7 separate regions of the Homo sapiens genome follow, and regions 2, 3, 4, 5, 6 and 7 are each reported to be linked to region 1. The links are microRNA targets in miRTarBase. Many come from high-throughput screens and were not tested one by one. Region 1 holds a microRNA gene; each other region holds the end of a gene's coding sequence.

The links. The annotated mature microRNA hsa-miR-424-5p reads CAGCAGCAAUUCAUGUUUUGAA and lies in region 1 at 2,234-2,255, shown strand. An mRNA with a match to its seed (bases 2 to 7 or 8) in the 3' UTR can be bound and repressed. Matches are read on the target gene's strand: a 7mer-m8 pairs with bases 2 to 8, a 7mer-A1 pairs with bases 2 to 7 and ends in A, and an 8mer does both.
Region 2: the mRNA of MSANTD4 is a reported target of hsa-miR-424-5p. The part of its 3' UTR that is shown has no 7-base or 8-base seed match.
Region 3: the mRNA of UBE2Q1 is a reported target of hsa-miR-424-5p. Seed matches in the 3' UTR shown: 8mer at 1,325-1,332, 7mer-m8 at 2,290-2,296 and 7mer-m8 at 2,331-2,337.
Region 4: the mRNA of KRT33B is a reported target of hsa-miR-424-5p. Seed matches in the 3' UTR shown: 7mer-m8 at 962-968.
Region 5: miRTarBase lists BCL2L12 as a target of hsa-miR-424-5p. Seed matches in the 3' UTR shown: 7mer-A1 at 3,256-3,262.
Region 6: the mRNA of HAPSTR1 is a reported target of hsa-miR-424-5p. Seed matches in the 3' UTR shown: 7mer-m8 at 616-622.
Region 7: miRTarBase lists CCDC83 as a target of hsa-miR-424-5p. Seed matches in the 3' UTR shown: 8mer at 1,106-1,113.

The regions. Positions count from the first base shown.
Region 1 is chrX:134,544,868-134,548,934 of GRCh38, reverse strand. MIR424 (microRNA 424) reads left to right here and starts at 2,224; the gene lies at 2,224-2,321. MIR503HG (MIR503 host gene) reads left to right here and starts at 2,305. Exons shown (of 3, transcript NR_024607.1): 1 at 2,305-2,383. MIR503 (microRNA 503) reads left to right here and starts at 2,537; the gene lies at 2,537-2,607.
Region 2 is chr11:106,006,226-106,010,292 of GRCh38, forward strand. MSANTD4 (Myb/SANT DNA binding domain containing 4 with coiled-coils) reads right to left here. Exons shown (of 3, transcript NM_032424.3): 3 at 1,674-3,885. The coding sequence ends at 3,310. Among named protein-coding and RNA genes, the nearest start is that of MSANTD4, 14 kb to the right of the region's middle.
Region 3 is chr1:154,547,130-154,551,184 of GRCh38, reverse strand. It overlaps UBE2Q1 (ubiquitin conjugating enzyme E2 Q1), which reads left to right. Exons shown (of 13, transcript NM_017582.7): 12 at 181-247; 13 at 716-2,608. The coding sequence ends at 747. It overlaps TDRD10 (tudor domain containing 10), which reads right to left. Exons shown (of 13, transcript NM_182499.4): 12 at 3,706-3,776; 13 at 3,038-3,507. The coding sequence ends at 3,475. Among named protein-coding and RNA genes, the nearest start is that of UBE2Q1-AS1, 4.5 kb to the left of the region's middle.
Region 4 is chr17:41,360,454-41,364,520 of GRCh38, reverse strand. KRT33B (keratin 33B) reads left to right here. Exons shown (of 7, transcript NM_002279.5): 7 at 568-1,023. The coding sequence ends at 685. Among named protein-coding and RNA genes, the nearest start is that of KRT33B, 7.3 kb to the left of the region's middle.
Region 5 is chr19:49,672,958-49,677,024 of GRCh38, reverse strand. It overlaps BCL2L12 (BCL2 like 12), which reads right to left. Exons shown (of 7, transcript NM_138639.2): 7 at 3,109-3,327. The coding sequence ends at 3,277. It also overlaps a transcript of PRMT1 not described here. Among named protein-coding and RNA genes, the nearest start is that of PRMT1, 2.3 kb to the left of the region's middle. RefSeq lists enhancers at 1-115, 120-269.
Region 6 is chr16:9,116,323-9,120,389 of GRCh38, forward strand. HAPSTR1 (HUWE1 associated protein modifying stress responses) reads left to right here. Exons shown (of 4, transcript NM_014117.3): 4 at 346-4,067. The coding sequence ends at 590. Among named protein-coding and RNA genes, the nearest start is that of HAPSTR1, 27 kb to the left of the region's middle.
Region 7 is chr11:85,918,875-85,922,941 of GRCh38, forward strand. CCDC83 (coiled-coil domain containing 83) reads left to right here. Exons shown (of 11, transcript NM_001286159.2): 11 at 475-1,139. The coding sequence ends at 636. Among named protein-coding and RNA genes, the nearest start is that of CCDC83, 66 kb to the left of the region's middle.

The DNA.
Region 1 (4,067 bases):
GCAGTGACCGACTGTCAGCCTCGCTAGGGTCGGGAGCGACTGGTTTTGACAGAATGTAAATGAACTTTTCCTCTTATTTGCAAGAAGTTAGTTATGTCTTGGAAAGAAATGTGTGATTAATTTCACATTGTCTCTCCCGAATTAAAACTTTAAAGGTTGTTTAGTTTTCCCCGTAGGGACTTGACATTGTGGAAGTTTGGCTAGAATGCGCCGAGAGAAGGTACATCGTGTGTTTGGGGTGTGGGGGACGAAGGCATATGCAAAATTAAAAGACAAAACGTTGTAGAGTATGAACAGAGGAAGAGGCGTATTCTTTGGCTCTTAAATCATTTAGCCAAACACATTGCAGTTCAGAAGGGGGTGGGGCTATGGCAACTCGAAAGTATCGATTCTTTGTCTATTGTATCAGTGAATGACCCTCTCCTGAAGTGACAAGACGCCCCTTTGTAATCTCTTTTCGTAAGTAAATTTCAGTCTAAGGGGAAATATGTAAACTAGGGGATCGAGGTGGCTTTTTAGGGGTGTAACTCGTTGTACTATCACTGGGAGAGATGAAAGGGGTTAGGGTGAAAGGTATAAATGAATTTGATTCCAAGAGCAATCTGGAAGGGACCTTCGCCTTTGACACCGATGCTGTTTCGAATGAACTTTTGTTTTTCTAAGTAGTCAACTAAGGAAATGTTAAATTAGGCATGACTTTAACTTCTGACATGATGGCTCGTATATTTGTGTGGAACAAAATGTTGGGAGAAAGTTGTGGAGTTTTACATGATAATTGTACATTTGCTAAACATGTTTTTTTTTTCTTTTTAAGGGCAGTCAACGACATTTTTCTCCATTAATCCCAAAGTCAGTGTAAAAGTTGTTTGTAAATATCATTGCCAAAACAAGATGGAATGTAGAGATACTTGATTGTCGCAATTTAGGGAATGGGGTTATTGTTACTAATGACTTTTTTTTTTTACCATGACATAGTGTATTTGTTACCACTGGATCTCAGTCTGGATGTTATAAATTCGATACTTAATCTTATTAAATACTCTGCACATTTTATTAACTAATAAATAGGACACTTAACATTCATTGTACTGGTTTTGAAAAACCGACTTAATTTGTAAGTGTAACAAGATACTTACAGTTGGATAATTTAAATGTCTATTACTTGTGCTGAAATGTATTTAACTTTCAAAACCATTACAGTTAGTGCTGATTTTGTTGTTTTAACTTTTAGGTTTGTGATTGAGGATTTCAGAGTGGGTTTTTTTTTTAATGCTTAATTGAATATTGTATTCAAACAAAAAGAGGGCATGCATGTGACTTGTTGCTAATATGTGTCCATTTTAAAAAGGAAAAAGTGGTATCTAATGAGTTAATCATTAAGGAGTATGCGCAGTGCCGGCCATTTCAGGACATGAAAGTTTCTGTGGAGCTGCTTGAAACAGGAAGGAGCGACTTGACATCAAGTATTTAAACTTTTTGATTTATGTTTTGATAGATGACATTGATAGGTATAAATTATAAATAAGTTTGAGTAACCAGTTTAATATGTAAACTGGTATTTCATCTACAGAAAGTTCTCTGTCATTGTTTGGAGCTCTTTAAAATAACTCAGCTGGGGTGTTTAAGAATAAAAACACTAGCAGTGAGTTAGGACATCTAATGCTTTTAAAGATAGATGTATATGTCGCAACGATAGTGTAAGAATCAGCTGAAGCTACCGGTGAGGTTTTGGTTATTTTCTTTCAGTCATCTGAGTCCATTTCCAATAAAGGTTGTTTTTTTGTTTCGTTTTTTGTTTTTTTTTAATGGGGACAATGAATGAGACTTGTAATATGCAGCAGGAAGAAGTTTCACCAAGACTTTGAAACTGGCAAGAATGATCCAGATGTCCAATTGCCTCTACTTAACCTTATTCGTCTACCTTCAGAAGTAATTAGATTCTCTTCCACACTAATTCGTATCCCCCATCGCTCTGCTTTTCACCCACTACGTTGTTCCAAGATTCATCCTCAGGGGAAAAAATTGAGAGCCACACTTTCGGCTCCACCTGCAGCTCCTGGAAATCAAATGGTGAAGTTATAAGAAGTACCTTAACTTGGAGTGAAGTGGCCTAGTCATAAGTTTTGCCCTATTCCTTGCCAGGGGGTGGGGCGGGGCTTCCTTCAGTCATCCAGTCTTTATTCACCCGCAGGTACCCCCAGATCGATCCCCCTTCATTGACTCCGAGGGGATACAGCAGCAATTCATGTTTTGAAGTGTTCTAAATGGTTCAAAACGTGAGGCGCTGCTATACCCCCTCGTGGGGAAGGTAGAAGGTGGGGTCTGCCGGACGCGTGTTCCTGCCACCAGGTGCCCGCTCCCCGCGAGGCCGGCTCAGGAGCAGGTAGGTGGGCGGGGGCTCGCGTCTCTGTTTCCGGCGGGTCCTCGCCCTTGTCCACGCAGCAGGGCTGTAGTCCGGGGAGGGCAGTATTCCTGGCTAGGCTGGGGCGCATAGGCGGTGCGAGTCGAGGAGAGACGCGGTGCCCGCGCTCAGCCGTGCCCTAGCAGCGGGAACAGTTCTGCAGTGAGCGATCGGTGCTCTGGGGTATTGTTTCCGCTGCCAGGGTAAGTCTGGGACTGCCGTTCGGGCCTACCCAGCAGGTAAGTCTTAGGCCATCGCCTGCGGTGTCGGCCCCGGGAGCAGCGAGACCCAAGATTGCATCAAACGTTTGCCCCGTCTCTGCATATGTGACTGGACGTGAATGATGCTTCATTTTGGCACCCCCTTTCCCTGCTCAGGTAGAATGTAAACAATTGAAAAAAATCCCTTCCCAATCAGAATACCACCCACAGGACAACGAAGAAAACCTATCTTCAGTCCCCACCCACGAAATGCTGGGGGGTGGGGAGGACTGGAAAAGGAGTAAGGGGAGAGGAAGGGTGAGCAGCTGCAAGAAGTCTTTACACCTCTCTGCGGTTCCTGGTAAACGCGCTCATGTCCTGGGTATGGAAGGGACTTAAGAATTCAGGAAAGATCAAAATAACGGGCCTCTTCCCCACTCCCTCGCCCTCCCTTCCCCGCTGCTGGGGGGTTAGGGAGGCTCCGTGGAGCTCCAGCACTCTAGAAGGATCGGGTGAGGCGCGAGGCCTTGCGGGCGGGTGAACCCAAGGTGGGGTGGAAGGCTCCAACCCGCCCAATCTGAGCCCGAGGCCTGCTGAGAAGCATGGGGGCCTTGGGATAGTTCCAGAATGAGGATGTGCGTTTCTAGCTGCTTTGCGCCCTCCTCCCCCAAAAATCTGCTACCACAATTCCAACCCGGCGGCACGCCCCCAAGACTCCTTTGTCGCCCCAGGGGCGGGACCTGAGCTGTCGATTTCAGGAGCCCTTCGTGACTTCAAAAGTCCTGGGCACTGTTGCTCATGAGTGCTGCACAACTGTCGCCCTCTAAAGCCACCTCCATCCCTCACTGGGCTGGCCTCCTGAGCCTTCGGTGAGGAAACGGGGTTCCGAGTTGCCCGCCTGAGAGCTTAACAGTCTGACTAGAAAAGGGCTAATTCGCTTTCTGTGCAAATCTCTTGAGCTAATTATTTAATCTGAAACATGGACAGGTAAAGGACCATTGGCGGGCGTGGGGAGGGAGGTGTGGAATCTTTCCCACACTTTTTGTCACCTTAAAGAAAAAAAAAAGACACCCAAACTCCTCTGGTCTGAATGGGCTGCCTGGAACTGGGCTTCCCGGGGCCAGGAGTGGGCCCCTAGAAGTTTCCCAGTTTGGGGTGGGGCCGGGGTTCCGAAGTCTAGAGCTGGGAGTCGGGTTCAGCGGCCCGAGACGCTGGCTCTCCCAGACTCCCTTGCGCCGGGGCAGTGCGCGGGGGCGGCTCGGGTCCCTCCCGGGCCGGCGGGGACCCTCAGGCTCCCGGGGCGCCGCCCACCAGCCCGACCCGGCGGCCTAGAAATCCCCATTCTGCTCCCGCCTCGCCCCGGCCGGCCAGCGCAGGGCCCCTCAGGCCCGCAATCTCCAGGCTCAAACGGCGAACAGGTCCCCGCATCCGCCTGCCTTTGCACTTGGGGGTGGGAGAGCCACCTT
Region 2 (4,067 bases), not on the chromosome of region 1:
CCTGAAGCAGGTTAAGAAACCCAAGGCTCTTCAACCAAAGCCCTAGAAGATATTATGCTTCTTTTTAGTTTCTCATTTCTAGGCATTTAAGACTGCTCTATCCAAAAATAATTATTAGCTATTTTCATGCTTTCCCTAAGAAATTAAAAGCTGGCCAGCATGGTGGTTCACACCTGTAATCCCAGAAGCTTGGGAGGCAGAGGCGGGTGAATCACTTGAGGTCAGGAATTCAAGATCAGCCTGGCCAACACAGTGAAATCCCGTCTCTATGAAAAATACAAAAATTTGCCTGGCGGCTGGGCGTGGTGGCTCACGCCTGTAATCCCAGTGCTTTGGGAGGCCAAGACGGGTGGATCACGAGATCAGGAGATTGAGAGCATCCTGGCTAGCATGGTGAAACTCCGTCTACACTAAAAATACAAAAAATTAGTGGGGTGTGGTAGTGGGTGCCTGTAGTCTCAGCAACTCAGGAGGCTGAGGCAGGAGAATAGCGTGAACCCGGGAGGTGGAGCTTGCAGTGAGCTGAGATCGCGCCACTGCACTCCAGCCTGGGTGACAGAGTAAGACTCTGTCTCAAAACAAACAAACAAACAAAAAAATTCACCTGGTGCGGTGGTGGTGGTGGTGCTTGCCTGTAGTCCCAGCTACTCAGGAGGCTGAGGCAGGATAATCGCTTGAACTTGGGAGGTGGAGGTGCAGTGAGCCAAGACTGCGCCACTGCACTGTAGCCTTGGTGACAAAGTGAAATTCCATCTCAAAAAACCCTGGATCTCAAATCCAACATTAATACCATCTTTCATTTAAGTAGCATTTTATAGTTTATATACTTCTACCATTTTCTTTAAAAAAACAAAACAAAACAAAAAAAACTATGTAGCACAGGCAGAGTAGGTATCATGCCCCAGTTACAGATGAAACCAAATTGAAGAGCAAGTTAAATGCCTTTCGCAAATAGCAAATGGCAAAGCTACAATACTTATAACTATACCTACAAACTTTCACCATTCCTTTTCCTTAGAGCTCTTATGCTAAAAACTTGGGTCAATATTAGTATGTAATTTTTAAGAAAGATGGTTAATTAAATCGATGAGGCTTTTTTTTGTTGTTGCTGTCATAAAAGTGGAGATAACATGATGTATTAGTCCGCTTTCATGCTGCTGACAAAGACATACCCAAGACTGGGTAATTTATAAAGAAAAAGGTTTAATGGACTCACAGTTCCACGTGGCTGGGGAGGCCTCATAACCATGGCAAAAGGTGAAAGGCATGTCTTACATGGACACAGGCAAGAGAGAAAATGAGAACCAAGAGAAAGGGGTTTCCTCTTATAAAACCATCAGATCTTGTGAGACTTACTTATTCACTACCATGAGAACAGTGGGGGAAACTGCTCCCATGATTCAATTATTTTCCACTGGGTCCCTCCCACAACACATGGGAATTATGGGAGCTACAATTCAAGATGAGATTTGGGTGAGGAAAGAGCTAAACCGTATCACCTGAGTTAGATCTCAAGGGTTCTTTTGAGGAGCAAATAACATATGCAGCATACATAGCTCAATGTCCAGTCCAAATGTTATTTAGGCCTCTGTCCTCACTGACTGTGACAGGGCTCTCTTCTAAGCTTGATAACCTCTACCCTTAGAGCACTGAGTATCATCTGAAATTACAAATTCTCAGATAGTATAGGCAAATTTATTTCTATGGTAGAAGCATTTATTTCAGATATAGAAAAATAACACTATTTCAAAGTCAGAGTAAGTAAACAGAAGTATATTTTTTCCTTGCATACCCATCCTCAAATGTCAACACACAGTTTCCAGCCATTCTTACAAGGAACAAATGCAAAATTAAAGTAATAACTGTCAACAGAAGAGCTGTATTAAAGCTACGTATCAACCTTGAAAATCAGAAAACACAAAGTGATCTAGTGCAGTGATTCTCAACTTTAGTGTGTATCAGAATCACTTGGATTGTGGAAAAAGCACCTTCAGAGAGCTGAAGGAAAATCATCAGGTCAAGCAAGCCCTTGGTCTCAGAATAAATATCAAAGAGACTAAAGATACGTGCTTTGTTCCTCAGGGAAGAGGGAAGGACAAAATATACTACAATATAGAAGATCAGCCATTTACTCTGTGTCACTTCTCTGAGCTTCACATTCAGAAATAACGACAGATACAACTCTCAAGAATTGTTCTACATATTAGGTTAGATAGTGTAATAAGTGCTTCTCCAATCCATAATACATACCTACTATCATTATTTCAACATCATTATTATTTGATACGGAGTACATCTTCCCCACCTACCCCCTACTCCCAAATGGCTGCTATTACTTATTTTAAAAGTCAAACAATCAGTCATTGGGTTCAAGCTCATGGACTACAAGTACCATTTTTATACTGGTATCATTTTTACTAGCTTCAACTATTCACTTATAAGATTTCAGTACATTACTGAAATGACATTTTTGTACCCAAACTAAGACAATGACTGAAAGAAAAGGAACTAAAGCTTTAAAATTGCGTCTTGCTTCTAAAGCATTAATAGTGAGAAAAAGAATTCTTTTCAAAGTGACCCATTTTAGAAAATTTCTGATGTTCTCTGTATTGTTTTCTGAATCTGAGAAGGCTATTTATAGATGGAAACATGGGAATAAAATACCTATAATCTTCATCACTTCCTATATTCAATATACTACACAGTAACATTTCATAGTTAAAGTTTTTGGCCATTTAAGTACCTACCCACATAAATATCTGAGGTTTTAATATTCTAAAACTATAAAACATAGCTATAGAGGTACACAGTTAGGCTAGGACAGGGTTTCTCAACCTCAGGACTAATGATATTTTGGGTTGGAAAATTCTTTACTGAGTGTGGGGGGGTGTTGAGGAGGTATGCATTGCACAGTAGCAACCTTTTCCCCACCCCAGTTTTGACAACCCAACATGTCTCCAGACATCACCAAATTGGTCTTCTGAAGGCCAAAATCTACCCCAGATGAGAACTTCTGGGCTAGAATTTTATATGGACATAATTGTAAACTCTGGGTACACAGACAATACAAGACTCTATGTAATATTATAAGGTAAAGAGTCCAGCACAGTAAGTTTCTGCTATACTGTTTACGCTAGGGCACAGCTTTTATATACTACTTAGGCATACAGTTATCCACATATAACTTTTTCCTACTGAACACTGACATTAGACAAGAAACCACAGCTAATCCAGCAACCATCATTATATCACCTGATATGAGAAAAATCTAGAGTTTTCAAACATTTGCTAAATGGAAGCCTGGAAAAATCACTGCAAGTGTCCTTCTTTCTGAATTCGAAGTCTGTCTTTCTCTACCTGTAAGCGTTCCTTTTCAATCTGCAGCTTCTCAGATTCAAACTTCAAAAACTGCAGCCTATCCTTTTCCAGTTGCAAGCGTTCTCGCTCAAGTTTTAACTTCTCTGTTTCTATGTCCTGTGGTTGAAGCATGGATTTTTCTCCTTGACCAAGTTCATTTTCCAAGGACGGTTTCTCTGAATTGACTATCTGTAACCTCAACTTTTCTCTTTCAATCTGCAGCCGCTCCTTCTCTAGCTGAAGCCGCTCATGTTCCATGTCTAAATGCCGCAGCCTCTCTTTCTCGATTTGTAGGCGTTCCTTTTCTACCTGCAGCCTTTCGGCCTCGATATCCAGTCGTCGTTTTTCCAACTCTAGTTTCTGTTTCTCAATATTTACGAGCAAATGAGGCTCATCATATGCAGATCTAGATGGTGTTGAGTTAAGGGTAAAAAACTCATCAATGTGGGGGAAATCGGGAAGTTCATTTTCTCTCCTGGAATCTGGTATGACGGATGACAACATTTCTTCCTCCTCCTCAATTTCAAACTAAGAGCAAAGAGAAAAGCAATTTTCAGTATTGACTTCTACTTTGTGGCAATTTGTCTAAATATTTCTTAAAAGCTTTCTGCGTCGTTTGGGGAAAAATACTTAATTTGAATTTTGAATATCATTTACACTGAATTACTTGATGTCTGTAATACATATAACCTAGGTAATTATATTTAGGT
Region 3 (4,055 bases), not on the chromosome of region 1:
AAAGGAAGACTATGGGATTATGCCTCCAAGGGACCTCGAAGGTGGAGGGTACTTAGTGTTTTACTAGACCACAGTGCTGGGAGCTGGGACTCTGGGGTCTCTGGGTGACAGCCTGCAGAAGGTGAGGGGCAGTAAGGCCACAGCTAGCCATGGCCTGATCTGGTGGCTTCCTCTCCCCAGTCTCAATACAGTCTGACAAGAGCACAGCAGTCCTACAAGTCCTTGGTGCAGATCCACGAAAAAAACGGTGAGGCTGGAGCCAGGACTCAGGAGATTCGGACACTTGCCACACCCAGGTTTTCACTTCCAGCCACAGAGCAAGAACCCCTTCTTTTGGTTTCTGATACTCAACCACCCATTAACACAGCACCTGCCCCAGTTCTCCCAGGAGGGACTGGCGGTGGCTAACATTCACAACCTCTTCCAGAAACACACCAAAATGATCGTATCACCGATAAACTTGGTGCTACCCCCTTCTTGACCACCTTTTGAAAAAGCTCATCTAACTCTCCCATCATCTCAGGTTGGGCACATCATTCCCCCTTCTCATCTCCAGGTATGCAGGCTCTCAGCTTCCCATACACCTCTCCCCACACAGCATAGCCCTCCCCAATATCCTCTTATCTCTGCCACTGGAGACGTCTTCAGGGATTGGGGCAGGACAGGGAGGGTGGGCCTGAACCTTCACCTCACTGACCATTCCATTTCTTTGCAGGCTGGTACACACCCCCAAAAGAAGACGGCTAACCCTGGAGTATCACCCTTCCTCCCTCCCCAGGCACCACTGGACCAATTACCTTTGAATGCTGTATTTGGATCTCACGCTGCCTCTGTGGTTCCCTCCCTCATTTTTCCTGGACGTGATAGCTCTGCCTATTGCAGGACAATGATGGCTATTCTAAACGCTAAGGAAAAAAAACAAACACAGAACTGTTTCAAGTACTCAAGACTGACTTACAGACCAACCAACCACCTTGCTGGAACCCTTGCTAGCAGGCATTCTTATAAAAGAAACTTTCGAGCCTCCTTATATTGCTGGAAACTCAGCTGTGCTCCAGACTAGAGCCTCCTTACCTATGCTATGGATTTTTAATTTATTTTCTCTTATTTCATGTACACTGCTTTTTTTGGTTACAGTGTATGATGGATGTGTATGAAAAAAATGTATCTTTGGGAAAACAATTACAGTTTGTTAATTTGAAGATGCTGGTCTTGACTCATCTTTATTTTTATTCGCACATCCCACCCCATCCCCTGAACTACTTGGGAGGTGGGGAGGGGTACGAGTCCACTGTTGCTTTGGTAGAGATGAGAGGCCGCATTTTGCTGCTAAAGCAAGAGAAACTTGGAGCTGAAGCACACACCTGGTCTGCCCCTAGATTTCTCCTCAAGGCCTCTGGAGCAACCAGCACTTGCCCCCTTGGAATGCAGAGCCTGGCCTGCCAAACTACAATGTGGTAGGCTGAAACGATGGTGTTAATTCTTAGGACTACTTTTCTAGTCACAGATGTTTTCAAATTTCTAAGAAAAAGAAAATGAGGCTCAAGAGGCTGCTTCGTAGAATTCCTTTTGAATGAATTGAGTGGGGATGGGGACACAGTCTCCAAGTGTGTATGTGGTCTTTTCTGATCTCAGCTGTGTGGCTGCAACTCTTCGCTGTTCATTGGTTCCTCTCCTGGAAAGTGGCTTCTAACCAGCACTGGATGGTGATCATTGGTAAGCTTTGCTCACCTCCCTCTCTCTTGCTTCATTTGGCTTTATCAAAAAGAACAGACCTAGCTCTGAATTTGTTTGGCTTGGGAAATTATGGATTCTTTCAAGCCACTCCCACAAGGTGGGTCCTACTAGAAAGGGTTAGCATTTTAAGGGGGGTTGTTCTATACACCTGTGTCCTTACCCCAGGCTCAGGAACTGCCAGGGAGGGAAGATGAGGTGGGGAGTCTGTACTGAGATGGAACTGTCAGTGCTGTGTTGTATGTACTTGCTGTTGTAAAAGTTTGGGCATGACTTTGCATCTAGCGGGTGCTGCCTGCATCTCTTTGTCTGTAAGCTTGCTCTGGGACTCAGCCTCTTAGGACCTACGATGCCAGCAGCTCTCATTAACAGTGAAATGACAGAGGCCAAAGATGGCCAAGTGAAGACCCAAGTCTCAGAAAACCCAGACTTGGGACAACTGCCTGGGAACTAGGATGCTAGAGCAGTTCTGTAATGCTTTGAGACACAGCAATTTTCACATTGGCCATTCTTTCCCCTCCCCTACCCCTTTTCTTTTGAGGGACTTTTAATGTTTGCTGCTTTAGGTGGATGGAGAGTCCACCAGTCCCACTCAATGCTGCTCTAACTCTACCCACACCCACCTAATTAGGGGTGCTAATAAAACATGCTGAGGTTGAGATAAAGACGGGACATAAGGGGAAAATTCATTCCATAGAGCTGAAATCTGGTTTTCAAGGCCTCTGTGGCTTTCTTCTGAACTTACCACCAGCCCTGGCTGGAATGTAGATTGTGTTTTTAGTAATGTGTACTGTGAGCTGTCTTCTGTATAATGTATTTTGTAATGTATTTTTCTCATCTACCAAAGGATGAAACAAATAAAATTATTTAAATAGTTTGGCTCTAATAAAATTATTTGAAGAAACAGTGGGGTTCCTGTTCACTTGACATAGAGGGAAATGCCTGCCCCTGTGAGTTGCATAACACCAACTAACTCTAAGAGAATCCTCCATTTTTCTTGCCAAACCCAGCACTCCCTTTTATGACCTTAAGTTTAGGGTTCTAATAAAGTACAAAGTATAAAAAAGAAACAAGGCCATATCATCATGAAACAATTTTCTTCTCTCCACTTAGAAGGCAAGGAGAAATAATGAAACTAACTCTTAGGTTGTTCCCCTACACTTCAAACATGTATCTATATCCCAGGCAGGGTTTGCATGGCCCAGAGCCCACACTGGCAGGCTCTAATCTCACTGCAGCAGTTTTAGAGGGCACGGCAGGGCAGTGGAAGGGTGGCTGGAAAGAAGTATCAATCACTCCAAACTCATGAAACATGCCAACATTTATTTGCTCATTGGTTAAATATTCTCTACCTATTCTACATGGAATGCCAGGAAAACCAGCAGAGGGCTTCTCCATTATCCAGAATCTGTTAGGACCACTTATATCATGCTCTGGGGTGCAAAGAAGAGACACAAGAAAGACCATCCCAGCTGCCTCAGGCTTTCAACCTAATGGTAGTTTCCTATGTTTGGTTCAAATGTTCATGCCAAGTTGGGGAACTGAAGACACATGACAAATGAGACTTCACTCTCTTTTGAGAGGGAAGCTGGGAGTAAAAGCAAAATTGAATCAATCCTGGGCACAGTCTGGCCTTTTTCACCTCCCAGGCCTCAAGAGTGAAAGGGGTACGAGAAGACAGGGCAGGTGGCCTCTGGATCCGTGGCAAACAGGAGAGGGAACATGCTGAGGGAAGCCCCGTTATTTAGACTCTTCAAACTTTAGGATGTGCAACTGGAAGAGAAAGACAAAGCCTTGGTGGGAAGGAAGGCCCACCCGAGCCAGTTCACCCAACCCCTCAGATAACCAGTTCGTTTGATCTAAAAGAATGCCAGGTAAATACTGTGTCCAGGCCTAGGCAGCAGCCTGCTGCAGACACCCCAAGGGCAGGAGTGGAGGGACAACAGCCAAGTTAGATGCAGGAGCAGTTACCGCCGAGTTCAAAGCACCAGTGATTTTCCCTTTGAGGATTCGATGGACAACCTCATACGAACTCAAAATGTCTGCAAAACAAGACACAACAACAAAACCTCAGTGGCACGGGGTTGGGCAGGAGGAGCAAAGGAGGGAAGCAAAAGGCGGGGGCTGCAGGGAAAGTGCTCTGGCCGCCAACCAGCTCCAACCAGCAAGTCTCTGCTAGTTCCTGCTAAATCCCTGCTGCCAGGATCAAATGAGATGATAAATGCTGAAAAGGTAGCATAGGGGGAGGGCAAAATAACAGCAGATAAAGGGAGGAGGCACTTGTTAAAATAATTACAGGGATCTGGGATTTTTAATGAGAA
Region 4 (4,067 bases), not on the chromosome of region 1:
TTTCTGTCTTCAGGACTGTCTTGTCACCACAAAAAGGAAAATGAAACTGTAACAATGATCACTTTTTCTGATTTAAACAGAACTTTCAAATCCACCGTTTCATTAATTCTTGTTAGAATCATCTGAGGCAGGCAGAGTGGGAATCATTATCACCTTCTTATAGATGAGCATTTGAGTGTCAATAGGGTTGATGATCAATAACTAACAGTACAGCAGTTGCCAGCGAACATAATATTTTTATGAACACAGTCTTGTGGAATTTTCATAATCCTGTGTGGTTGGTACTACCAGTCCTACCTTACAGGTGGGAAAGCTGAGGCTTAGAAGGAGGAAGTGACTTTCTTGTGTGTCTAGGGTCATACAAGGAAGGCTGGGATTCCACCTTACATGTTCTTTGCTCATTTCTGCCACTGTATCAGAACTCTGTAGAAGGAGTGATCCAAACAAGGCATGGCTTCCTAGGACATCAGAGAACGGGTTCTGCTTGTTTCTGTGTCTCTTTGGATTGAGTCTCCCTTGTTTGAATCACCCTTCTCATGCTGACAGTCTAATGCTTCTGCATCCCAGGCTGCCCTCCAACCCCTGCGCCACCACCAATGCATGTGAAAAGCCCATTGGATCCTGTGTCACCAATCCTTGTGGTCCTCGTTCCCGCTGTGGGCCTTGCAACACCTTTGGGTACTAGATACCCTGGGGCCAGCAGAAGTATAGCATGAAGACAGAACTACCATCGGTGGGCCAGTTCTGCCTCTCTGACAACCATCAGCCACCGGACCCCACCCCGAGGCATCACCACAAATCATGGTCTGGAAGGAGAACAAATGCCCAGCGTTTGGGTCTGACTCTGAGCCTAGGGCTACTTGATCCTCCTCACCCCAGGTCCCTCTCCTGTAGTCAGTCTGAGTTCTGATGGTCAGAGGTTGGAGCTGTGACAGTGGCATACGAGGTGTTTTGTTCTCTCTGCTGCTTCTACCTTTATTGCAGTTCCCCAAATCGCCTAATAAACTTTCCTCTTGCAAAGCAGACATGATTCTCATTTGTATTCATTCTTTTCAAAGTGTTGACTCTCTGTGTGCTTCTTATAAAGCCACTTGAAAGCAGAAGGAGGACTTTATAGGTTAATCATCTCCTAAAAGGTCTTCATCACCTTCATTAACATTCATTAAGCACAGTGAGTCCCAGCATCCACTTAGGCCAGCATAAAACAAGTAGGATCACTAGGACAAGAGGCCTCGTCTGAATATGATAAACATATTTCTCATGGGACCTTACTCAGTAAAATGCAACGGTGAGCATCTCTAGACAGTTCCACTCATTCTTTTAAGTCCCTAGCAGGGATGACAGAAGTTAATATTTATTGAACACCTACCAAATGCCAGGAATTGTGCTACTAATTTTTTCTCTTCCTCACAGTGAGGAAGAATCAATGGCAGGACTGAACCCAGAGTTCACTCTCTGCTTGTCAGTTACACATGAGGTGTGATTATGAGAGGACAAAATTGATTTCAAACAAGCACCCAGAGCTTATACATCCTCCTGGGGAGACACAATGCTGTTAGTGCTCAAAACATCTCTGAAACTCTCCTTTGTGAAATACTGAATAACTCAATACTAAAAAGCACCACCTTGCCATCTTCCATATTTGAGCAATACCCAACCTATTTTGAAAGTGTTTCTTTTCTCACTTGAATTGTTTAACCATGGGAACTACATATGAATTTCGGGACCCTCCCCCTCAAAGTTATTTAGAATCAAATTAGGATATTACAAGTCAGGTGTTTGCAAATGCTAACAGTGACCACGGTACTGGTGCCTGGCCCCTACTGGTGCCTGCTGATGTCTAACCAAGGTTAATGGCTCCCATCACTGTGCATGCTGTGGTTTGTGCCAAGGCCACTCCCTCAGTCTGCAGATTATTCCCAGATTAACCAATCTGCTAATTATGTCTTCTCTCCTTGAGATGAAGCTGATACTATCTCCCCTGCTGTGATGATGCCGGTTCCATCATCACATGTCAGTCTTAAATTCTTAAATTTTTTTTTTTTTTTTTTTTGGAGACAGAGTCTCACTCTGTCACCCCAGCTGGAGTGCAGCGGCATGATCACGGCTCACTGCAGCCTTGAACTTCCCAGGCTCAGGCTATCCTCCCACTTTAGCCTCTTGAGTACATGGGACTACAGGCATGCACCACCATGCATGGCCAATTTTTGTATTATTTGTAGAGAGGGGTTTCGCTGGGTTATCCATGCTGGTCTTGAACTCCTGGGCTGAAGTGATCTGCCTACTTCAGCCTCCCAAATTGCTGGGATTACAAGTGTGAGCCACTGCACCTGGCCAGTCTTAAATTCTTGTGCTCTCATATTCTAGTTCACTTAATATCTACTCCTTTGTTGTTGATGCTGCTGCAGCTTAGACAGGAGACCTTGGAAGACCGTCTGAGTGATACTCCATCCTCTGCTCAGAATGTCTTAGACCCAGTTTGTGGACTCTATTCTCTCTTTCCTCAGGGAGAGTTCATTCCCTGGAGCTACCTGCATGCCTCATGAAAACCGCCCTTGTTCAATTTATCCCGGCAGTTCTCCACACATGCTGGGATTACTGTCCACTGATAGTTACCTCTCAGCTACCTTCACCAGGAACAGTGCCTCCCAAATACCCAGTTGCATGCTTTGTGAGTGAGAGGTCAAAGTTCTCAACACAGTAAATACACTTTGTTTTTAGTGTTCAATTTATAAAATATTAAGCAAAACTTGTTTCTATGTTTGATGTTGTGTCAGCGGAAAACATGGGTCTAGGGAAAACAGTCCTTAGTTCTTATCTCTGCCATGGTGCTCTCCTTGGAGGATAAAAGAAAGGAGTGTCAGGGAGATCACTTTTTCTCAGGACAAAGCCAAATTGCTCTTCTGAAGTATCTGGGAAGGGTCAGTGTTACCACTGAGAAATAAAACTAAAATCCTAAGTCCCCCAGCTGACTGAACGGACTCTGTCTTGGCCAAGGGGACCGAAGAGAAACCTTAAAAACAGAGTCACATGTATGTTTATTGCAGCAATGTTCACAATAGCAAAGGCCTGGAATCAACCCAAATGCCCAATAATGATAGACTGGATAAAGAAAATGTGGCACATATATACCATGGAATACTATGCAGCCATAAAAAAGGTTGTGTTCATGTCCTTTGCAGGGACAAGGATGAAGCTGGAAACCATCATTCTCAGCAAACTAACACAGGAACAGAAAACCAAACACCGCATGTTCTCACTCATAAGTGGGAGTTGAACAATGAGAACACGTGGACACAGGGAGGGGATCATCACACACTGGGGCCTTTTGGGGGGTGGGGGGCTAGGGGAGGGATAGCATTAGGAGAAATACCTAATATAGATGATGGGCTGATGGGTGGAGCAAACCACCATGGCACATGTACACCTATGTAAAAAACCTGCACGTTCTGCACATATATTCCAGAACTTAAAGTATAATAAGAAAAAGAAAAAAGAAGGAAAGAAAGAAAAAAACAGAGTCCCTGACCATGACAGGATGGGAGGTCAGACATGCCTCAGTATGCCCCCTCCTTATTAACTTTTAACCAGAATTCTTTCCTAAGGAGTAAGCAGAAACCAGCTCTGGAAAATAAGAAACAGATGAATCATTCCTTTATCACCTTTAGCCCATCATCTGAAGCTGTGACTGGATTCCTTCCTCCCGCCTTTTGCAGTTTCAACACAGCAACCAACTGGCTGGCATTCCTTCCTGATAAGAGACCACCAACCATGGAGTGGTCTGGCCAGTCTACAGAGGATGTGCGGTGAGGGTTTTCACATCCTCTGCCTCACCTTTCAACATCAGAGGGCCAAAAACTCCATCCTTGGATCATGCTAATGCCACCATTTGTGAACATGCGACCCATGAAGAGGCATGAAGCTCAATTGCACATGCTTACATTTGTCTTTTCATAAATATTCATGACTCCTCCTGTAGCTTATTAAATAGTGCATTTGGCCACCTCACTCAGCATACATTCCTTTCTCACATTTCCCTCCCTCAAAATGCTTACTCTTGGCTTCTG
Region 5 (4,067 bases), not on the chromosome of region 1:
GCCCGTCTATTGCAAGAAGCGCGACTGGTGATTGGGCAAAATCCACCAGGAATGCCCTCCCCTTTACACCCAGCACCGCCTCAAAGCTTCCCGGGGAGCCCCGCGCTAAAGGGGCGTCTTGAAACACCTGTCCATCACCAAAACGACCCGCCTCCTAATCGCTGCCATTGGTTTATCCGGAAGCGACGTCACGCAGCCTTTGGCCCACCCTCGCCAAGCGGCCGGCCTCAAGGAGAACACGGCAATTGGCCCACGGGTAGGGAAGAAGGCGGGGCTTCAGGCACCAACGATTGGCTCAAAGGAATTATCACTCCTCGTCCACTCGGTGGATCCTCCCAACCCGGGGGGAGTCTGGAGGAAAAAGGGAGCTTGTGCTCATTACCTGGGGGAAAAACGGAATCGGTGAGAGGCCCAGAGAGAGGAAGGGCATAGCTGGGGTCCCGAAGCAAGTGAGGAATAGGAGTCCGTCGTCAACACATTAAATCCCTAGCCCTTGACATAATCATTCCAAGTTTTTTAAAACCATCAACCCCTCTCAAGCCACTTGGTTTTTGCCAAGTCCCTCCCCCTGCCAGGAACGCCCACCTCTCTTTGTCTGGTCAGCTTCTAAACGTGAATCAGAGCACAGCTTAGGCACCACTTCCTCCGGGAAGCTTTCCTTGATTTGCAGAAAAAGTTCCTAGTTGAATGAAGCTGAATGCAAAGGGCCGAATGCGTGGGTCCTGCCCCTCCTCTCCCCGATCCCTCTACTTCCCTCTGCTCACACTTCTCTCCAATCCCGGAATGAGCTCGCTCTTTGGTTTCTGGGCCTCCGCGCAGGCTATACTCTCTGGCGTGCCGCTGGCAAACGCCTGAGACTTAAAATTTACAATAGGGTTCGGGCGCGATGGCTCACGGGTGTAATTCCAGCACTTTAGGAGGCGGAGGCAGGCGGATCACTTGACATCAGGAGTTCGAGACCAGTCTGGGCAACATGGTGAAACCCCCATTTCTATTAAAAATACAAAAATTACGCCAGGCGGCCGGGCGCGGTGGCTCACGCCTGTAATCCCAGCATTTTGGGAGACCGAGGCGGGCGGATCACAAGGTCAGGAGGTCGAGACCATCCTGGCTAACATGGTGAAACCCCCGTCTCTACTAAAAATACAAAAAATTAGCCGGGCGTGGAGGCTTAGGCAGGAGGATGGCGTGAACCCGGGAGGCGGAGCTTGCAGTGAGCTGAGATCGCGCCACTGCACTCCAGCCTGGGTGACAGAGCGAGACTCTTGTCTCAAAAAAAAAAAAAAAAAAAATTTGGCCGGGCGCGGTGACTCACGCCTGTAATCCCAGCATTTTGGAAGGCTGAGGTGGGCGGATCACAAGCTCAGGAGTTCGAGACCAGCCTAGCCAATATGGTGAAACCCCCGTCTCTACTAAAAAAACAAAAATTAGCCGGGTGTGGTGGTGGGCGCCTGTAGTCCCAGCTGCTCCAGAGGCTGAGGCAGGAGAATCACGTGAACCCGGGAGGCAGAGGTTGCAGTGAGCTGAGATGGTGCCACTGCACTCCAGCCTAGGCGACACAGCGAGACTCCATCTCAAAAAATAATAAAATAAATAAAAATAAAAATAAAAAAATTAGCCAGGACTGGTGGCACACGCCTGTAATCCCAGCTACTTGGGAGGCTGAGGCAGGAGAATCGCTTGAGCTCAGGAGGTGGAGGTTGCAGTGAGCCAGGATGAAGCCATTGCACTCCAGCTCGAGCGACAGACCGAGACTCTAACTTTAAAAAAAAAAAAAAAAATTGAAAAGCATGGCACTAAACAAACCAAGAAAAGGACATTTGTTTCCAGTGTTTGAGCTGAAGCAAGAGGAGCCCAGCTGCAAATATGCACATCAGGTCTTTAGCTTGTTGCAGCTCTGTGCATAAGCATTGCCCTCCAAAACACCACAAAAGCACTGCCTTAATTTTTGGGGTATGAATACATTGTAGCAAGGATGCAAATTTGCAAATAATCTACAAATACTGAGGATCAACTGTAATTGGTTCGGTTTGTAATCCTGTACATTTCACTTATTAATTTACAAACATTACTCTGTGAAGGGGGATATGGCCCTATAAAGGAGACAAACCGCCCAGGCACAGTGACTCATGCCTGTGATCCCAGGACTTTGGGATGCCAAGGTAGGAGGATCACTTGAGCCCAGGAGGTGGAGACCAGCCTGGGCAACATAAGGGAGACCCCATTTCTACAATTTTTTTTTTTTTGAGACGGAGTCTCGCTCTGTTGCCCAGGCTGGAGTGCAGTGGCGTGATCTCAACTCACTGCAACCTCTTGCCTCCCGGGTTCAAGCGAGTCTCGTGCCTCAGCCACCCAAGTAGCTGGGATTACAGGCACCCACCACCATGCCCGGCTAATTTTTGTATTTTTAGTAGAGATGGGGTTTCACCATGTTGGCCTGGCTGGTCTTGAACTCCTGACCTCAAGTGATCCACCTGCCTTGGCCTCCCATAAAAATTCTTTTTTAAAAATTAGCTAGGCGTCGTGTCGCATGCCTTTAGTTCCAGCTACTAGAGAGGCTGAAGTGGGAGGATCACTTGAGCCCAGGAGGTTGAGGCTGCAGTGAGCCATGATAGTGCCACTGTATCTATATAACAGTGCAAGTATAGGCAACAGAGCAAGACCCTATCTCCAAAAAAAAAGGGAGAGTGGGGGGTGTGTGTGAGACAAACCACTGGTCTGTAGGTAGATGAGAAACCAGCAAGAGAGACTTGAAAGGAGCAATGGGAGGAGAAAAACAAGAAGAGGGTGGTGTCCTAGACACAGGTGAAGTTAGACTGTACCTTTCTGTGGAATTCACTGGAAAGACTCCATGACCATCATACAGCATTAGCTAGAATAACCAGATCGTGCAATAGGAAAAAAAAATGCAAGTTGCTGGAATATTTACAGGTATTCTCTCAAATATGTTACATGTCCAGGAGACAGGCTCTTGTAGGTGCTGCAAATAAATATTTCTAGAATGAATGAACTGGTTCTTTCCTCAATTTGCGTAAGCCACAGAAATCTCTGAACCAAATCTCCTCTCCTTAAAACTTTAGTTCCCAAGTGTAAGAACAGACAATTGAATACTTTGTAACGTTTTTAATAAGAAAAGTTTTAAACAATTTATTTTTGGCAAAAACAGGTAGGGCAACCACCACCCCACAGCCCTGAGTGGAATAGGAAGACTTGGAAAAGCACACGAAGAGGGCAGGGACATGAGGTGTCATCTTGTAGCAGCTTCTGAGAAAGAGCTCAGTCCAATGGCAAGTTCAAGTCCACGGGTGAAACAGCCAGGATGCCCTCCTGGAAGGGAAAAGTGGCAGAGCCCTGTGAGCAGGGCAGGTGTTCCCCCCATACAGCAGCGTCCACATCAGCCCTGTGAGATTAGAGACGGGAAGGCGAGGAACCAGAGAGCGGAGGGTGACAGACACCCAGACAAGGGGACAGAGACCCAGACAGAAGGGCACAGGGATGAGGGGGCAGGGTCCTAGCAGGAGGAGGAAAGGTTGAGCTCGAGGAGGGTCAGGACACTGGAGTGGGATTAGACAGAGATCCAGAGAGAGTGAAGAGTTGGGGGACAGAGTCAGAGATGGGGAAGAGAGTCTTGGGATTTGAACAATTCAGAGTCGTGGCTTTGTGTACAAATCCAGATTCCAACACTCTGCATGCTGGGGACTTTTCCTCTCTGCCCCCACAAGACGAGGACAATAAGAGCCCCATGAGGTTGTAGTGGGTTTAAATGGGATCATTCCATTGAAATCCCTAGCAGAGGACCTGGCCCACCGAGAAAACTCATCTGCTATCAATCCTACTTTAAAAAAATTTTTTAAGAAATTGTCCAGGCGTGGTAGCTCAGCCTGTAATTCCAGCACTTTGGGAGGCCGAGGTGGGTGGATCACTTGAGGCCAAGAGTTCGAGACCAGCCTGGCCAACAGGGCAAAACCCCGTCTCTGCTAAAACTACAAAATTAGCCGGACATGGTGGTGTGCGCCTGTAACCCCAGCTACTCAGGAGGCTGAGGCAGGGAATCGCTTGAACCCAGG
Region 6 (4,067 bases), not on the chromosome of region 1:
AAGCAAATGTCTCCTGTCCTTATCTGTAAATTTTGTGCAGTACCTACCTCATAGATGGGAGAATTTAATGAGATATTTGTACACCTAGCACGGTGGTTGACACGTAGTAACTTTTAGTAATTGGTAGTTACCAATATTGTAGATATTGGTAGTATTACCAATAAAATATATGTCAAGGCCAGATGATATGTTTATCCAGAATAAAACTTAATTGCTTACTAGTAATCCCTTATAAAGGAAATAGGCAGACATGCTTTGACATTGTGACAACATGGAAAGTAAGTGGGTTGCTTTCAAAAGGGTTACATAATTGAGCAACTCTAAAACCTTTTTTCTTCTTCCTAGGTCTTAGTGGTGCAATGGCTAGTATAAGCGTGCGTTCGAGTACCCCAGGCTCTCCTACACATGTAAGCAGTGGATCGAATGCTAGTCGAAGGAGAAATGGACTCCATGATGTCGATTTGAACACTTTCATATCAGAAGAAATGGCACTCCACTTGGACAATGGTGGAACTAGAAAGCGTACCTCAGCCCAGTGTGGCGATGTCATTACAGACTCACCAACCCATAAACGCAACAGAATGATCTAAACTGCAAACATTTTCACACCCACCATGCTGCTTGAAAGCCACTTGATCCTCAACATATACTATAATTGCAAAGGAAACATGAGGCCATCTTCCCTTGTTCACTGTTTAAGACAAGTGAATTCTATAGTGGTTGCCATAAAAGGAAGTTCTAGGTATTTATAGTAGATGCCTCTTGTAATTATGGCTTTCTTAAAACTATAATCCTAGCAGAGGACATCAGATATTGTGTAGTCGTTAGCAAGATCATCATAGGCAAACATATATCCGTTCCAAGGCTAAAAGTGACCTTAACTGTATTTATTCTCAAAGGGAAAGGAAATATCAGATGTTTATTTGGTTATAGAATGCTTTTTTTTTTTTTGGGTCCATTTCCTGCTGTGTTGAGTATTTTGCTTCAACAGTATTGCCAGGTTCCTAAAATTGTCTAAAAACATGATTTGGCTTCCATTTTTGCAGCTGCACTGTACCATGCACCTGGTTTCTATATAGTAACAGTGTGCAATTCTAATTATTGGACTGTGCCCTGTTTTTAGTTTTCAAATCAATTTCTAATTCTGGTGATTGTGTGATGTAAAGAGGTGCTATGATGGTCATGCAATTAATACTAAATATTGAATCAATGCCCAGAGCTTTATTGGATTCACTTTGTGTGTGTTAGTGCTCTAAAGTAGCAGTATTATTATTAAACTGTCCCCAGAGTAACCCTGTAGGCCTAAAGTACTCAGTTTTAAGACAAACACTACTTCCCATGCGGGGTACTTTCCTTATGGTAAATGTAAACATGTAGACTGCATTCGAGGTGACCTAAAGTAGAGAGGTCATGAACTTTGAGAATGGGCTTCCTTTTTGGTTCAGTATTAGTGAGAGGGAGAGGGAGATGGATGGTGGGGTAGGTTTTCTAGTCTATCATTTTACATTTTTCATGGAGTCCCTGCTTAGTGCAGTTTCCATTGGAATGGGTGGAAGATGATAAAGCTCTCTTTTTTATCTACTAATAATGTGATTGCAACTTAAAATAGCAAAACCCAACTCTCCCTGTCCCTCCAATCCCTCTCCTAAAAAGTTCAGTTTGGAATCTCATTCTGGAAAAGATGGAATCGCATGGAGATTCTCTAGCTGTTAGGTAGACCTAAATAAAAAGTTCTCAATAGATTCCTCTTTTGAGTAAATATAAGACCTCTTGTAGCTACAATGTTTTAGAGCATGTTTCATCTTCATTTTTAATATCCTGAACTGAATGATAGTGTTTTTTTAGATGAAGAACTGATGTCAGCCTGCCAGGTACTGTAATTTATTCTATCATATTATTATATTATATATCAAGTAGGACAGTGAAAAATGTTTCCTTGCAAACTTGTAGTCCAGTATCAGTTACTTCCTATTTTTATCCTTAAAAGACCATTGCAAATCAGTGTAAGGGTTTTTCCAGTAATTACTCACAGCACTTTGTTAAAGTTTGCAATTTCTTCAGCCATTTAATAATATCTTTCTGTGAAGAAACTTTGCTGAGTTAACCATAAATGTTCATTCATTGACTGGGTGGGATGTGAATGGAATGTTAGAAATGTTGTGTGAATTGAAGTTCTGTATTCATTATAGATGTAGCCCTTATTTAAAAAAGTGAATTCCATACTAAAACTAGGAATGAAAGTGAGAGATTTCTAAACTTTTGCGAAAGTGGGTCATTTTTTGTTTGACTATAATAGCAGGAAGAATTATAGCAATCTGTCATTTTACCTGAAACAGACAAGCCTATGTATTATGAATACTTTCAAGCTTCCCTTTGGAATATACAAGACATGCGTTTGGAGTTACCTTTGTTTTTCTATCGTAAATTTAGATTCTGGAATTGGGGTTTGGTGGTGCAATGTGTTGCTCACAAGTGGCCAGAACTCCTATTCCTAAAAGGATTTTGAGATGGAGGAACACATATTTAATTCCCCTTTATGCCTTGGTTCTTGCTCCTCTTTCCACGTTGGATAACAATTTTTTGGTTGTTTTGTTTAAGTTGGTGCTCTGAAGCTTAATCTCAGTACCCTTTACTCTGAATTGTCAAATTTTGATAAAACGTGCCATTTTCTTTGGTAAGAGAAAGCAGGTCTTAATGTCTGCCAGAACACAATTTATATGCCTTATTGGCTTCATTAAACTTTTAGAAAACTTTAGCATTTGTTACTTTTTTCCATTGCGTTTACTTTCAAATGCACCTAATGAATTTGTCACCCAGTCGCAACTTTTCCCTTCTCTGTCCCATTGCTTTCTCCTTTCCCCGACGCACAGAATAAACATGAAGCTCAGCAGTAGAAGCGTAATGATTTCCCTCAGGAAAAACTTCTGACAGCTAGGTTTTTCAAGGGTTTCCCTGTGCTAGCTGAGATGCAAAACAAATCATGGAAGATTGCATACCTGTGTGGTATTTTAAAAACAAGTTGACTTTTTCAGTTTCTTGAACGGTTAAGGGTGGATTTAAAAACTAGACAGTTTAGTTTTGGGGAACAGAAGCTCTCTTCGTCTTAAGCCAGATTCTCTGATTCTTTTAGACGTCATAGCTCCTTAGTTCTGCTCCTGTCGCCCTAACTTGGCATGGGCAAGTTGAAGTTCATCCTTAGACTGCAGCGTTCTGAGCATGGCTGAAGTATTAAAATGTTTAATATTTTTTAGAGCAAAATTGTTGGAAAGCATTTGGCTGAATCTAAAGACCTGCAGTCAGATTCTTCAATGTGGTTTACCCAACTGGAGTAGTGATAAACACCTTAATCATAAAATGAATAAAAACAAAAAAACCATGGGGCTTGTCTGCAGTTTTGTTTTGGTCATCACATCTGAATAACTTTTTGATGCAATCAAATGAAGTTTAGGCTTTTAAAAAAGAATTAGCTTTCTAAATGTTTTTTTCTAAGGGCTACTGGAACTCATTAAACTCGAATAATTGTGGCTTTGGGCCTGAAGATTTCCATTCAACAGTGAAAACTGGCTAACTTCCTTTATAGTGAGAGGGATGGCCAACATCCAACCCAGAGGGCTAGTCAGCCTCAGAGGCCAGTGCAAGACGCCAAGAGATGATTTTGAAATGGGGCCATAAGTTTAGAAAATTATGAACAGAATGATTGAGTTTTTGGCCTGGCTACTACCTCTAGTGGTGACTACGTCAGCAGATTAATCTCATTGCATTTTACTTTATGTAGTATGTTGTAACCTGGTGCTTCATTCATTAGATTGGTGACTGAGGTATTTAGTCATGGTGAGGATGGGAATCTTCAGAGATACATTCTGGATTTGTGGAATAAAGTGACTAGAAAGGTTCTTCCAGAGCAACCCCTTGTTTAAAGTTATAAGTGTTTATGGTACCTGCTACCCCTTCTGGAAAGTTGTCGGCTTTGATGGTTTAGATGACCTTACCCCATAAGGCCAGCTTCTAGCCTCCCTTTGGAATATTTGAGGTGTGTGATGTTTTAGTGGGGGCAGCATTTGAGAGAC
Region 7 (4,067 bases), not on the chromosome of region 1:
TAGCTACCTGTGGGGATATTTAACCTTTTATCTGTACATATCTGCTTAGGAACAAAAGCAAAGGCAGTTGCTTACATGACTCAGCTTTCAGCTTAATTTTTTCCTTTTGGCAAAGTGAATTGGGGTCCCATGTTTTTATTTTCCTTTCACAGACTATAGTTAGTTTTGCACTAACTATAGCCAGCATCCCTCCCCCATTAACCCACTATGAGACAAGCCTTCCAGCCTTGCTGCCTGCTTTTGGAAGATCTTGCCTACTGTGTATGCCCTACTGGGTATATAAGTTTCCTGAGTATTTTGTTTTTTTCCCATTTATAGTGGCTCTCATATTTCATGTGCTACACAGCATCAGGCAATTAGGGGGCAATGAAGTCTGTCAGATAAAGGCCAACTGTAATAAAGAAAGCCTAATCTATCAAGCTGGTAATTTGCTGAATCACCTCTCCTATTCTTTTTTGTGCCTGTTCACCATAGGATTATGTAAACTTGGGCCCCCTGGGAGTGAAGCTTATGAGTGTGGAGAGCAAGAAAATGCCCATTCATTTTCAAGAGAAGGAAATTCCAGTCAAACTCTATAAAGATGTCAGGAGCCCAGAAAGCCACATCACATATAAGATGATGAAGTCTTTTCTCTAAGACGGAAAGCTGCAAAGGAAACACAACTTTTCCTTATAAATGTTCTTTGGGAACTGAAGTATATCCGTTGCCCATTTTACTTACACTTTGGCTCATTTTTAAACCAGCTGTTATTTCTAAAGGTCATATTTACATTTAAAATCAAAGGTATTCAGCTATTCATTTACTTGCATGGTATGAGTGACCAAAACGGAAGCACGCTTTGTATTTCTACACTGAAGTATTCAGAAGCATGACAGTGGGTTCAAGGTAGTCTCTGAGGTTCCTTTTCACACACAAAAAATTCACTGATTAATCTGTGATTCCAGTATGAAATAGTTCCATTAGAAATGTTTCTAAGAAAAACTTAGAAGTTTGCATAGCATTGTCTACACATCTTTCCCTCTGAGGATGCTCAATGTGATAGACAGCCAGTCTATAATGCAAGCCAATTCTCCGTAGTTTAACCCTGTGTATTAGTCTGTTCTCATGCTGCTAATAAAGACATAATTGAAACTGGGTAATTTATAAAGGAGGTTTAATTTATTTACAGTTCAACATGGCTGGGGAGGCCTCACAATCATGTCAGAAGGCAAATGAGGAGCAAAGTCACATCATACATGGTGGCAGGAAAGAGAGGGCTTGTGTAGGGGAATTCCCATTTATAAAACTATCAGATCTTGTGAGACTTATTTACTACTTCAAGAACAGTATGGGAAAAACCTGCCTCCATGATTCAATTACCTCCTACCAGGTCCCTCCCACAACACATGGGGATTATGGGAACTATAATTCAAGATGAGATTTGGGTGGGGACATAGCCAAACCATATCACCCTGTTTATAATGAATATAAAAAATGAATGTTGGAAATAAACTTGAGAGTGTTAATTTGTTGTATAAAAATATTCCACTGATAGGGAGCACTCCCTCCCTCCAGCTGTATCTAGTCTAAACTACCACATTCCTATCCAAAGCAAATACCACTTCTCTCAGGGCTACCACAAGCCAAGGACACTGTGAGTACCTGGATGTGACATCAGCATTCCATTTGGATCCTTGAGACCAGATAATACCACCATATGTCATATTTCTGTAATCTTTAGTGATATAAGGATTAATTTAATCATCAGTGGGGGATGTTATTGGCATTTAAAGTAAGGACAATTGTGCAGCACTGTCTTGAGCCCACAGGATGTTAGCACTCCTGCTCCCTCAATCTCAAATGCTGCTACATTAACACTCTTCATTGTAGAAGTTGAAAACACTCGTCATCTTTCCCAACACCCCTTACATTGTAGTACCATCACCAATTGAACATCTTTGAGTTTCTCAATTTTTGGAGACAAGGACTCACTCTGTCACCCAGGCTAGAGTGCAGTGGCACTATCATAGCTCACAGCATCCTGAAACTCCTGGGCTCAAGCAATCCTCCTGCCTCAACCTCCCGAGTAGCTGGGACTGCAGGTCTGTACTATCATGCCTCAACCTCCAACAGTGCTAGGATTACAGGCATGAGCCACCGACCGGCCTCTCCTGTACTTTAATCTCCATTGTGTTCGGTGCTTTCCTGGACCCTTCCCATTCTCTCCCAAAACTTCCAACAACAACCTCTAAAAAAACAATAAACAAGACAAATGCCACTGTTGAAGGTGTAAATGTCCAAGGGGTTCACCTTGCCTGCTGCCTATACAGAGCCAATTCCTCAAGACAGGGGAGCCGGGCATGGTGGCTCACCCCTGTAATCCCAGCATTTTGGGAGGCCGAGGCGGGTAGATCACAAGGTCAGCAGATCAAGACCATCCTGTCAAGACCATCCTGGCTAACACGGTGAAACCCCTTCTCTACTAAAATTACAAAAAAATTAGCCAGGTGTGGTGGCAGGCGCCTGTAGTCCCAGCTACTTGGGAGGCTGAGGCAGGAGAATGGAGTGAACCCGGGAGGCGGAGGTTGCAGTGAGCCGAGATCGCACCACTGCACTCCAGCCTGGGCAACACAGCAAGACTCCGCCTCAAAAAAAAAAAAAAAAAAAAAAAAAAGAGGGGAATTGCAACAGACAAAAGAGTAATTCACACAGAGCCAGCTGTGCGGGAGACCAGCGTTGTTTTATTACTCAAATCATTCTCCCTTAGCATTCGGGGAGCAGAGTTTTTAAGGACAACATGGTAGATGTGGGGAAGCCAGTGAGCCGGGACTGCTGATTGGTCAGAGATGAAATCATAGGGAGCCAAAGCTGTCCTCCTGACCAAATCAGTTCCTAGATGGGGGGGCCACAAGATCAGATGAGCCAGTTTATCAATCTAGGTAGTGCCAGCTGATTCATGATGTGCAGGGTCTGCAAAATATCTCAAGCACTGATCTTAGGAGCAGTTTAGAGACAGTCAGAATCTTGTAGCCTCCAGCTGCATGACTCCCAAACCATAATTTCTAATCTTGTGGCTAATGTTAGTCCTACAAATGCAATCTACTCCCTAGGCAAGAAGGAAGACTGCTTTGGGAAAGGGCTGTTATCATCTTTGTTTTAAACTGTATACTAAGTTTTTCCCAAAGTTAGTTGACCCTCCGCCCAAGAATGAAAAGGACAGTTTGGAGATTAGAAGCAAGATGGAGTCAATTAAATTAGATCTCTTTCGCCGTCTTGGTCATAATTTTGCAAAGGCAGTTTCAAAGGTGTCTTTTCTTTTTGAGACAGGGTCTCACTGTCATCTAGGCTGGAGTGCAGCAGCATGATCATGGCTCACTGCAGCCTTAGCCTGCCAGGCTCAAGGGATCCTCTCACCTCACCCTCCCAAATAGCTGAGATCACAGAAGCACACCACCATGCCCAGCTAATTTTTTATTTTTTGTAGAGATGGTGTGGGGCGGCGGGGGGGGGGGAGGTCTTACCATGTGACCTAGGCTGGTCTTAAACTCCTGAGCTCAAGTGGTCTTCTTGGCTCAACTTCTCAAAGTGCTAGGATTATAGATGTGAACCGCCATGCCCAGCCTGTTGAAGGTTTCTTTTACTCTCTGGTTTTGACTGGCACCTGGCTTTCCCCAGAAAGAGCTCACTTCCCCTGTGGCTCTCTCTCTAGTGGTTGGTATTGATTCTTCTCTGCCACCACCTTCTGTGGGGCTACATGCTTTCACTAATGCAATGCCTCTTCTAGACCACAATTCCACCAGTCTCATGTAAAAACATGCCTTTTGAAGCTCAGTATATATATCACCCTCTACTACTATTCTTTGCTATAAATTTCTAACCCTTCTCATCACTCTTCTCCATAATCTTTAATTTGGCACCTGGTTCACAGGCCTCTTTTCCACTCTACTCCATTCCCTAACAGATCCATCTATTGAGATACCTATTAGTCATTCATGAGTATAAAATTGTTGCATGTATGTGTGCTTCTGTTTGACCATCCCAGATCCACTCTCTACCCTTATCTCTGTGTCTCAAAGGGTGACCTTTAT